3 separate regions of the Homo sapiens genome follow, and all the other regions are linked to region 2. The links come from fine-mapping of genetic effects on plasma protein levels. A gene starts in region 2. Each other region holds a variant in brackets. All regions are shown on one strand. Distances are between the middles of the regions.

What was found. PIP is the chance, under the fine-mapping model, that this variant and not a neighbour inherited with it causes the effect. Protein levels are from the aptamer-based SomaScan assay of Sun 2018.
Region 1: its variant is fine-mapped to the plasma level of the GPC5 protein (Sun 2018, PIP 0.95).
Region 3: its variant is fine-mapped to the plasma level of the GPC5 protein (Sun 2018, PIP 0.95).

Annotation. Positions count from the first base shown.
Region 1 is chr13:91,769,193-91,771,957 of GRCh38, reverse strand. All of the region lies in intron 5 of GPC5 (glypican 5), which reads right to left. Among named protein-coding and RNA genes, the nearest start is that of GPC5, 370 kb to the right of the region's middle. The variant C/A (reference allele first, on the strand shown) is at 1,266.
Region 2 is chr13:91,397,508-91,400,272 of GRCh38, reverse strand. It overlaps GPC5 (glypican 5), which reads right to left and starts at 1,652. Exons shown (of 8, transcript NM_004466.6): 1 at 1,064-1,652. The coding sequence starts at 1,226. LOC124903189 (a long non-coding RNA gene) reads right to left here. Exons shown (of 2, transcript XR_007063831.1): 2 at 2,685-2,765. RefSeq lists silencers at 1,568-1,837, 1,544-1,838.
Region 3 is chr13:91,375,696-91,378,460 of GRCh38, reverse strand. No RefSeq gene overlaps it. Among named protein-coding and RNA genes, the nearest start is that of GPC5, 22 kb to the left of the region's middle. The variant C/GC (reference allele first, on the strand shown) is at 1,362.

The DNA of each region.
Region 1 (2,765 bases), 370 kb before region 2:
TATGCAATTCATTTCTCAAATAATTATAAAACTGACATTGAAGAACTATTGAACAGATTTTTATTTGCTCTTATTTTATTTGACAATGTGTGCTTGTATTTTATTTGAAATGCACTGGCATTTCTATTGTTCTGAAGTAAGATATCATATCTTTCTGTATTTTGTAAAAATATATGATGATTCTATTATAACATTTTTATGAATCATTATATTTTTAATTTTTTCCTTTTTCGGAAAACAACTAAAAGGACTTGGTAAAAAAATTACGGAAGCACATAGAAATATAATCAATCAACTTTTCCTCCTACACATGTCCTTTAACCCTCTTCTTCTGTAGCATTTTCATATCACTAGCTGTAAGGCTATCTCCTTCTTTATAAAAATCAAAATTATATTCTTCATTTTAGTCTGCCATAACCATTTAATTATTTCCTTATTAATGGAGATTTTGGTTGTTCTACCTTGTGCTAGCATAAAATATGTGCAATTCATGCTCTTTTGTTTACATGGATGAAATAGATGATTCAAAGGTCATGTGTATTTGCAATATTGATACATGTTGCCCAGTTACCCTTCAAAGACGCAAGAATAGCTTCCCCTCTATTGGGATGTTGAAATACCTTTTTCTCTACCTGCTGGTCAATGCTATGAATTATCAAATTTAATGATCTTTGCAAATATAAGTGAAAAAATAGTTATTTGATTTGTATTTATTTGATTTTTAACATTGAGGGTGAGAATTTTGTTTCTTTGTTTAAAAGTCACTGTTATGTTCTGTAAATTATCTATTCATGCACTTTGCCTAATTTTCTATCAGATTTTTGGCATTTTCCTAATTCATTTGAGGAAGTATTCATTCATTTAGTGGCAGGGTGACCTTTTGTGAGAAAAGTTGTATACGCTTTATTCTCAGTGTGGTTATGTGTTTGTAGTTTCTTTATGGTATGCATTTCTCTGCAAAGAAGATTTATATTTTCCAGATAACACAAACATGACAGACTTTCATTCACTATGAATAATAAGTTTTTATTTTTTACAGGTATGTTTCTGGTTTTGTTCTCTTTTTTATTCTCCCTCTCATGTATACCACACAAAAATTGGCCAATTTGAAATAAGATGTTTGTTTTCCCTCAAACTTTATATTCACATTTACCCTTCATAAAGCATTCAAATTATATAAATCTTTGCTTGTGTGAAATAAGAAATATGCATATGCATACACACACACACACACACACACACACACACACACAAACACACAGTCT[C/A]CCCAGTCTTTGAACCAGAGCTCCTAAAGCGGCGACTGGGATAATTTTCAGGTCTAATATTTGGTCCTTGACCCCATTTCCTGACACATAGTGTCTAAGACCTTTGTAATTTCCTGAGTGATAGGAGCAAGCATCTAACACATTCCTCCTAAATCCTCTGGAGTTTCCTGGGTGATAGGAGCATCTTTTTTTCTAATGAGATAATTTCTGATGGCCTCTTGGATGGGGGCTGGTCACCAGAAAAACCAAACCATGATTAGAAGCTTGGAATTTTCAGGTTGACTTTCCATTCTCCAGAGAGGAGAGGGGCTGGGAATGGAGTTAATCAGTTGATGATGGATTAATACTCAATGATTGATTGATCATGTCTACATGATGAAGCCTGAATATAAATCCCAAAAGTAGGGTGTTCTGAGAGCTTCCAGGTTGCTGAACATATGAAAATGCTGGGAGGATGGCATGCCCAGAGAGGACCTGCAAGCTCCACATTCCTTCTTCCATTGCTTGCCCAGTGTATTTATTCCCTTTGGCTGTTCATGAATTGCATCCTTTATAATAAAAGAGTAAACACAGGTAAAGTGTTTCTCTGAGTCCTGTGAGCCATTCTAGCAAATGATAAAACCCAAGAAGGGACTCATGAGAATCTCCAATGTGTAGCCAAGTCATATGGAAGTTGTGCATAATCTGGGGACCTACTACTTGTGAGTGGCATCTAAAGTGGGGGGCATCTTGTGGGACTAAGCCCTTAACATGTGAGGTCTGTGGTAACTCAGGTTAGTGTGGTAATTCAGTTGAATTATACGACATACAGTTGGTGTTCAAAGAGAACTGGACAGTTGCTTGGTGTGGGAGAAACTCCCACACTTCTGGTCACAGAATTGTTCTGTGTTGAGTGTGAATACAGAGGAAAACAGATTCTCCCCACCCCCATCCCAGGTGGAAACCACCAATGACTTCTCAAAGCACATAGAATAAAATCCAAGCTTCTTCCCGGGCTTATTTGACCTGACACTTGCCCAAGCTACAGTCTCATTCCAGACAATCCTCCAGCATCATCTGCATCACCCTGAGCCACACACGCTGATTTCCCTTCTGTTCCTTAGACACATGAAGCATGATATTCTCTCTACTTGGAAAATTCAGATCTTTCCACATATTCAGCCTAAATGTGATTTCCCCAGAGAAGGTTTTCCTGGATACTCAATCTAACATGCCCTTAACCCAACTTCTATGGCATTAGCTTCATGAGAGCACAGGCTTGCCATCTCATTCCTCACCTAAAATACTACCTGTGATAATTAGTTTTATATGGCAACTTGGCTAAGCTGTAGTACCCAGTGGGTTTGGTCAAGTAGCAGTCTACACGTTGCTGTGAATGTATTTTTTAGATGTTATTAATACTTAAACCAGTAGACTTGGAGTAAAGCATCTTAGCCTCCATAATGTTGGTGGTCCTCATTCAATCAATTGAAAGCCTTAGGAGATACTAAGGTCCCCAGA
Region 2 (2,765 bases):
TTCCTCATTGCTACAAGCAAGTCCCCCAACCCTGGAAACTCGGGACTTTAGACTTAAGCGTCCTCCACAAGTTCTTTGTTCAACCAGTAACCTCACAGATTCGTCTGTGTTGGCTTCATAGTCACAGCTAAAGGGGTGCATGGCTCTAGTGAGATCTTACTTAGCTCTAGACACCTGCTATTGCGTTTGACAGCTATGACCTATTCTTCCAGACAGAACCTACACTGGAACTCCCACCAGCAGAAGGAAATTGGTGCGGTGGAAACGGGGAGCAGGGTTCGAAAGCACAGGCAAAAGGCGCTCACAGGAAGCAAGATCCACGCTGGCCACACAAACTGTATCTTTCCCTTTGGAACGCTGGTACATCTCATCCATGTCAAGTGACTCCCCAGTACGTTCGGTTTGATCGCCTGTTGCCCTAACACTTTTCAGGCTAAAAACTACCTTGGTGCTGGGAGACACACTGGGTGGTTGGGTTTCCTCCAAGCAGGGCTTGATACGAGGGCACAGAAGGGCAGCTAAGGGTCACGTCTCTGGGTGCACAGGGTCCAAGTCCTAATTACAGAGGAGACCGGCTGCCCTTGTCTGTGCCCCATTCTCCAGCAAAGGGGTATATCGCAGGTTTGTGATTTTTAGTACCAAACTTGGGGCGATCAATTCAATTCCCTCCACCTTATGAGAAAGCAGTAAACCGAAATCCCCGGTGGGGCACTGGGGAAATTCCTACTCGGAAGAGAAACGGAGTTAGACTGCGTGTCCCCCACGCCCTGATGTCTGCTTTCCTGGTTCCTTCCAACTCATCCTCCAAGACGAAGGGAGCCGGGCGGGAAGCAGATGCCCAGAACGGGGATTCGTCGCAGGCTTGGTTAGGGGTCCCCAGAGCTGCGCTGCGCTGCACTCAGGCTACCCGCACCAAGCATCCCCGGAAGCCTCCCCGGGATTCACCCTGCGCGGCTGCAGGGCCCGAAAGGTCATCTTCCCACGAGTGCCACCAAGGGAGCCTGGGGGAGCGAAGGCCGGGCTCGGACGCCGCCAGTCCAGAGACCCCCTCATTGCCCCTTACCTGCCCGCGGCGAATCCGGCAGCCCCCTGACAGCTCCCAGCAGCCGCCACTGGAAAAGTTTCCGAACTTCTTCGCAGGTCTGCACGCCCTCGCTGCGGGCGGACCCAACCAGGGCCAGAAGGAGGAGGCAGCGAAAGCCCACGGGCCAGGTCTGTGCGTCCATCCTCGCCGTCCTGGTCCCCTTTACCCGCCAGTGGACCCCACTCGCCCTGCGCGCCCTGGCTGAGCTGCAGACGTGGAAGACACAGCGGCCGAGGCTCTCGAGCGGTGCGAGCCGGCTGCGGGGTGTACGGACCGCCCGCGGGCACCGGCTTCACCTGGGAGCAGTTAGCTCTTCCCGGAGGAGGCCCTAAGCTGAGACACCAGAGTTTTCCAGCTGAGCACCCTCTGGTCTTCTTCCCTAGCCGAGAAGAGTGGGCGGCTGGGCGGGGCGAAGAAAACTAGTGGAGCCGCAGGGAGCCCGCAAGCATCCGCTCTGGCCACCACTGCTGCAACTGCTGCCGCTGCCGCCACTGCCGCCACTGCCGCCACTGCCGCCGCCGCCGCCGCCTCCGCCGCCCGGCTCGGCTCGCAGCAGCTAACCTGGGATGTGCCCGCTCGCTGCGCTCCGCGGAAGCCCCGCCCCGCACTCCCCGCCCCGCGGACAGGCCACGCCCCTGCCACGCCCCCGGCGCGCTGTCCCGCTCCGCACCCACTAAGATGCTGTCATACGCGGCCCAGTGCTGAAGACTCGGAGCGACATCGATGCAAATAAATAGAAGGAAACCCGGACCTCGCTCTCCCAGTCCGTTCTGGGGAAGAATCATCTGATAAAAACAGAGAATGTATAAATAGGGTCAGAGAAGACAAGAGATGAGAAACACCAACTGGAACTAAGAAATATCTCATCTATGTAATCAAGGTCCTCAGTACATAGGAATTTGTATTCTAATTGCATTAAATAGGATCTGGACATAATACAAAAGGCAAAAACTATTTACGGTTAAAGATCTCAATTGAGAGACTTCATAACACTTAGGTTGTTAAAGAGTGCACATGAGAAGTTATTTTTTAAAATGGCTTTGTTTTACTGCTTAGGAACATTTTTCTATAACATGATTTTCTGAAAGGAGGTATAAGAATTACAATCAAACTTTATCACATTCTTATCACAATGAAATCTAGTTTTAAGTCTCTTATCACCATTTAGCATCATATTTTACTTCAGCACTTTGTATTTGTGGGGCTCCTCTGAGCTTTACCACTTCTGGAATTTCTTTAAAATATTTTTCAGAGAGCAATTAAGTTAAGAGTGCTCAGGGGAGTTCCTTACAAGGAATATAGAAAAATAAATACTTTAAGCAATTTTAAAATGGCAAAGGAATTTTGTCAATTTACAGTTTATGAGAGGAATGCATTACGCACCATAAACCAAAGGGCAGGTGCATTTTTTAAATGTGGTTGACTCAACAACTAAGCCTGTAAGAGTGTCTCAATCTACAGCCACTTGAAGAGAGTACTCCTTCTGTAAAATAAACTAGTTAAAAGCATCAGGCAGAGGGGACAATGAATGCTTTAACCACTTTAAGGAATTTCATCTCAAATTTGAACCCTTACCAAGAGATAGTAGTGAAAAACTTTATGTCTTAGTGAAGATTTTTAATGAACATTTAATATCAAAGGCAGCACTTTCAGCAGTATATCACTTGCTTTAAAACCATTC
Region 3 (2,765 bases), 22 kb after region 2:
TTACTATAGGGAGTATAATTATTCATTGAACACTACTATTCACAAACCAGAAGCATAGATCGTATTCAAAAATAATATTTGTTCTGAAAGTTGACAATTTTATATTTAGCTAAGTAAAATTATCAACCATTCCAAAATGATTGAGTACCTGTTTACCATTTTGGTATCTCAAGGAGATTTGCCATATATCTCAAACAAATTGAACATCCTTTTATATTTATATAAATATCAAAACTTTCTGCTAATAGTCTCACCCTTTGCCTTCCACTGTGATGTAAGCTTCCTGAGGCCTCCCCAGAAGTGGAGCAGATGTTGGTGCCATGATTTCTGTAAAGCCTGCAAAACCGTGAGCCAATTTAACCCCTTTTCTTAAAAAAAAAAACTAATAGGAACGATAACAAAAAAAGTATTATATTGTCTTTCCAAGTACCTTATTTGAAATTGTCATTCTACAAACAGTCATTAAATTTTATTAAAATAGTTTAGTTGAATTCAGTCATGTGTATGTACTTAAGCATAATCAAATTATAATATTTGCATATTTTAAATTTAAATTAATTTTAGTTATTGTTATTTTTCCAACTTACAACAGGATGAAAACATATTAATAGTGCAGTCTGCTCCTGGTTTTGTCCATGTTGAGGCTCACTATTGGTCTGCTTGACTCTGGTTTTTTCTACATGTAAACTCCTCTGCCATCTCCACATTGTGGAAAACATGACCACTCACAGCTCAGGAACCTCAACTGAAAGACCTAACACTTCCCCAACAGTTGTGGAAGCAGAGTCTCATGAATTCTTGTGTCAAATGCTTATGCCACTACCCATCATTCTCACTCAGACTGGTCAGATATCCACTGTCATGACCAGAGATGATTGGGATGATCTCTGTCTGTCTCACTCATTCCCCACATTTAAATGGAGTTCTCTTACCAGAAATCAAGTAGGAAAAGTACAGATGTATCCACAGTCTACCTAGGAAAAACACACCCTTTTTTTTTTTTTGAGACGGAGTCTCGCTTTGTCTCCCAGGCTGGAGTGCAGTGGTGCAATCTCGGCTCACTGCAAGCTCCACCTCCCGGGTTCACGCCATTCTCCTGCCTCAGCCTCCCGAATACCTGGGACTACAGGCGCCCGCCACCACGCCCAGCTAATTTTTTTGTATTTTTAGTAGAGATGGGGTTTCACCATGTTAGCCAGGATGGTCTCGATCTCCTGATCTACTGATCCGCCCGCCTTGGCCTCCCAAAGCAAGCACAACACAAGGACTGTGATCACAGGGAAGATTAAGTTGCATCTTGTACCCTGGTTTAAATGTAATCAGTTTAGGTTTTCTTCCCTTATCCTGAAAGAATACTTGGG[C/GC]AGGCCCATGATTTTTGTGGTTACTCAGAAAATAAAAAGTTCTTCAGTTAATGGTAAACACAGTTTTGACTTAAAAATTGGAATGTCCAGTATAAAATATTAAACACAATTTCAAACTTGATTTATCATCAAAAGTTCTTTTATCCTAAGCTTGGAGCCTCTCTCTCCGGAGGTATGCCATAGGGAAGCCAAGGTGAGGAGAAGTGGGAGGAAAGAGGGTGTGTCCCTCAGCTCTCTGCCTTCACCCTTTTTCTCTTCAGGGAGTCCATGACAGACTGTCTCCTACAGTGCCCTGTTCAGGCAGATGTCTATTTCACATTGTCTTCTGCCAGTTTCAATAACTTTAGGCCTATATGTGTTCATCTTCATTCTTTTTCTTTTTTTGTAGAAAGAGGGACTTGCTGTGTTGCCCAGGCAGGCCTTGAACTCCTAGCCTCAAGCAATCCTCCTGCCTTGGCCTCCCAACGCACTGGATCCCAGGTGTAAACCACTGCACCTGGCTGCTATCTTCGTTTTTTTCTGCTGAGGTTTCTTGGCTCTTATTAGACAAGATCCATGACATCCTACACATGTCCCACTTCTGTACCGTCTGTGCATATTTGTTACCTGGCCTCTTCTGGCCAATATACATAATAACAACTCTGTCCAGTAAAATCACTTAACCAATTTTACTCAGTAGAGCCCTTTTCTTTCTAATTCTGCATATGTCAGCTTCATGAGGGCAGAAAGCTTAAACAGGTTTGTTTATTGCTCCATCCTCAGCACATGGACTAACAAGTGTCATGTAATAGGCACTCCATGTTGAATGCATGAACATGAAGTTGGGATCATCTGCTCTCATTAAGATATCCTGATATTGATCACTGATGGCTCTGTCAGAACGGAGACAGGAAAGATCCAGTTTTAGCATCATTTTAGACACGCACAAACAATTCCCACATTTCCTCTTCCTAATATAGTAAATACCATTATCCCACTTATAACTGAAAATGTGCTTACACTTCCCCAGAGGCCAGCAACACAAAATCAAATCCAGCTACTCTGTAAAACTGTATGTCCAGGATCTCTAGAGAAGCACATTTTTCTTATTCTGATGAGCATGTGACTTGTCATGTGTGGCAAAGGTTGACTAAATTGTAAGTTTAACCCTCCTGTGTTCTGGTTATCTATTGTTGAGTCACAGGCTACTCTAAAACTAGTGACTTAAATCAATGACATTCATTCTGTTCATAAATGTGCAATTTGGGCAGGGCTTGGTGGGGACACGTTATCCATGCTCCTGTTGGAGTTAGCTGAAACAGCTTGAAAACTGATGGCTGGCATCATCTGAAGGCTCAGTTATTAACATTTAGTTGATGCTGACTCTCAGTAGGACCTCTGCTGCGGTCATGACCAGAATCCTAG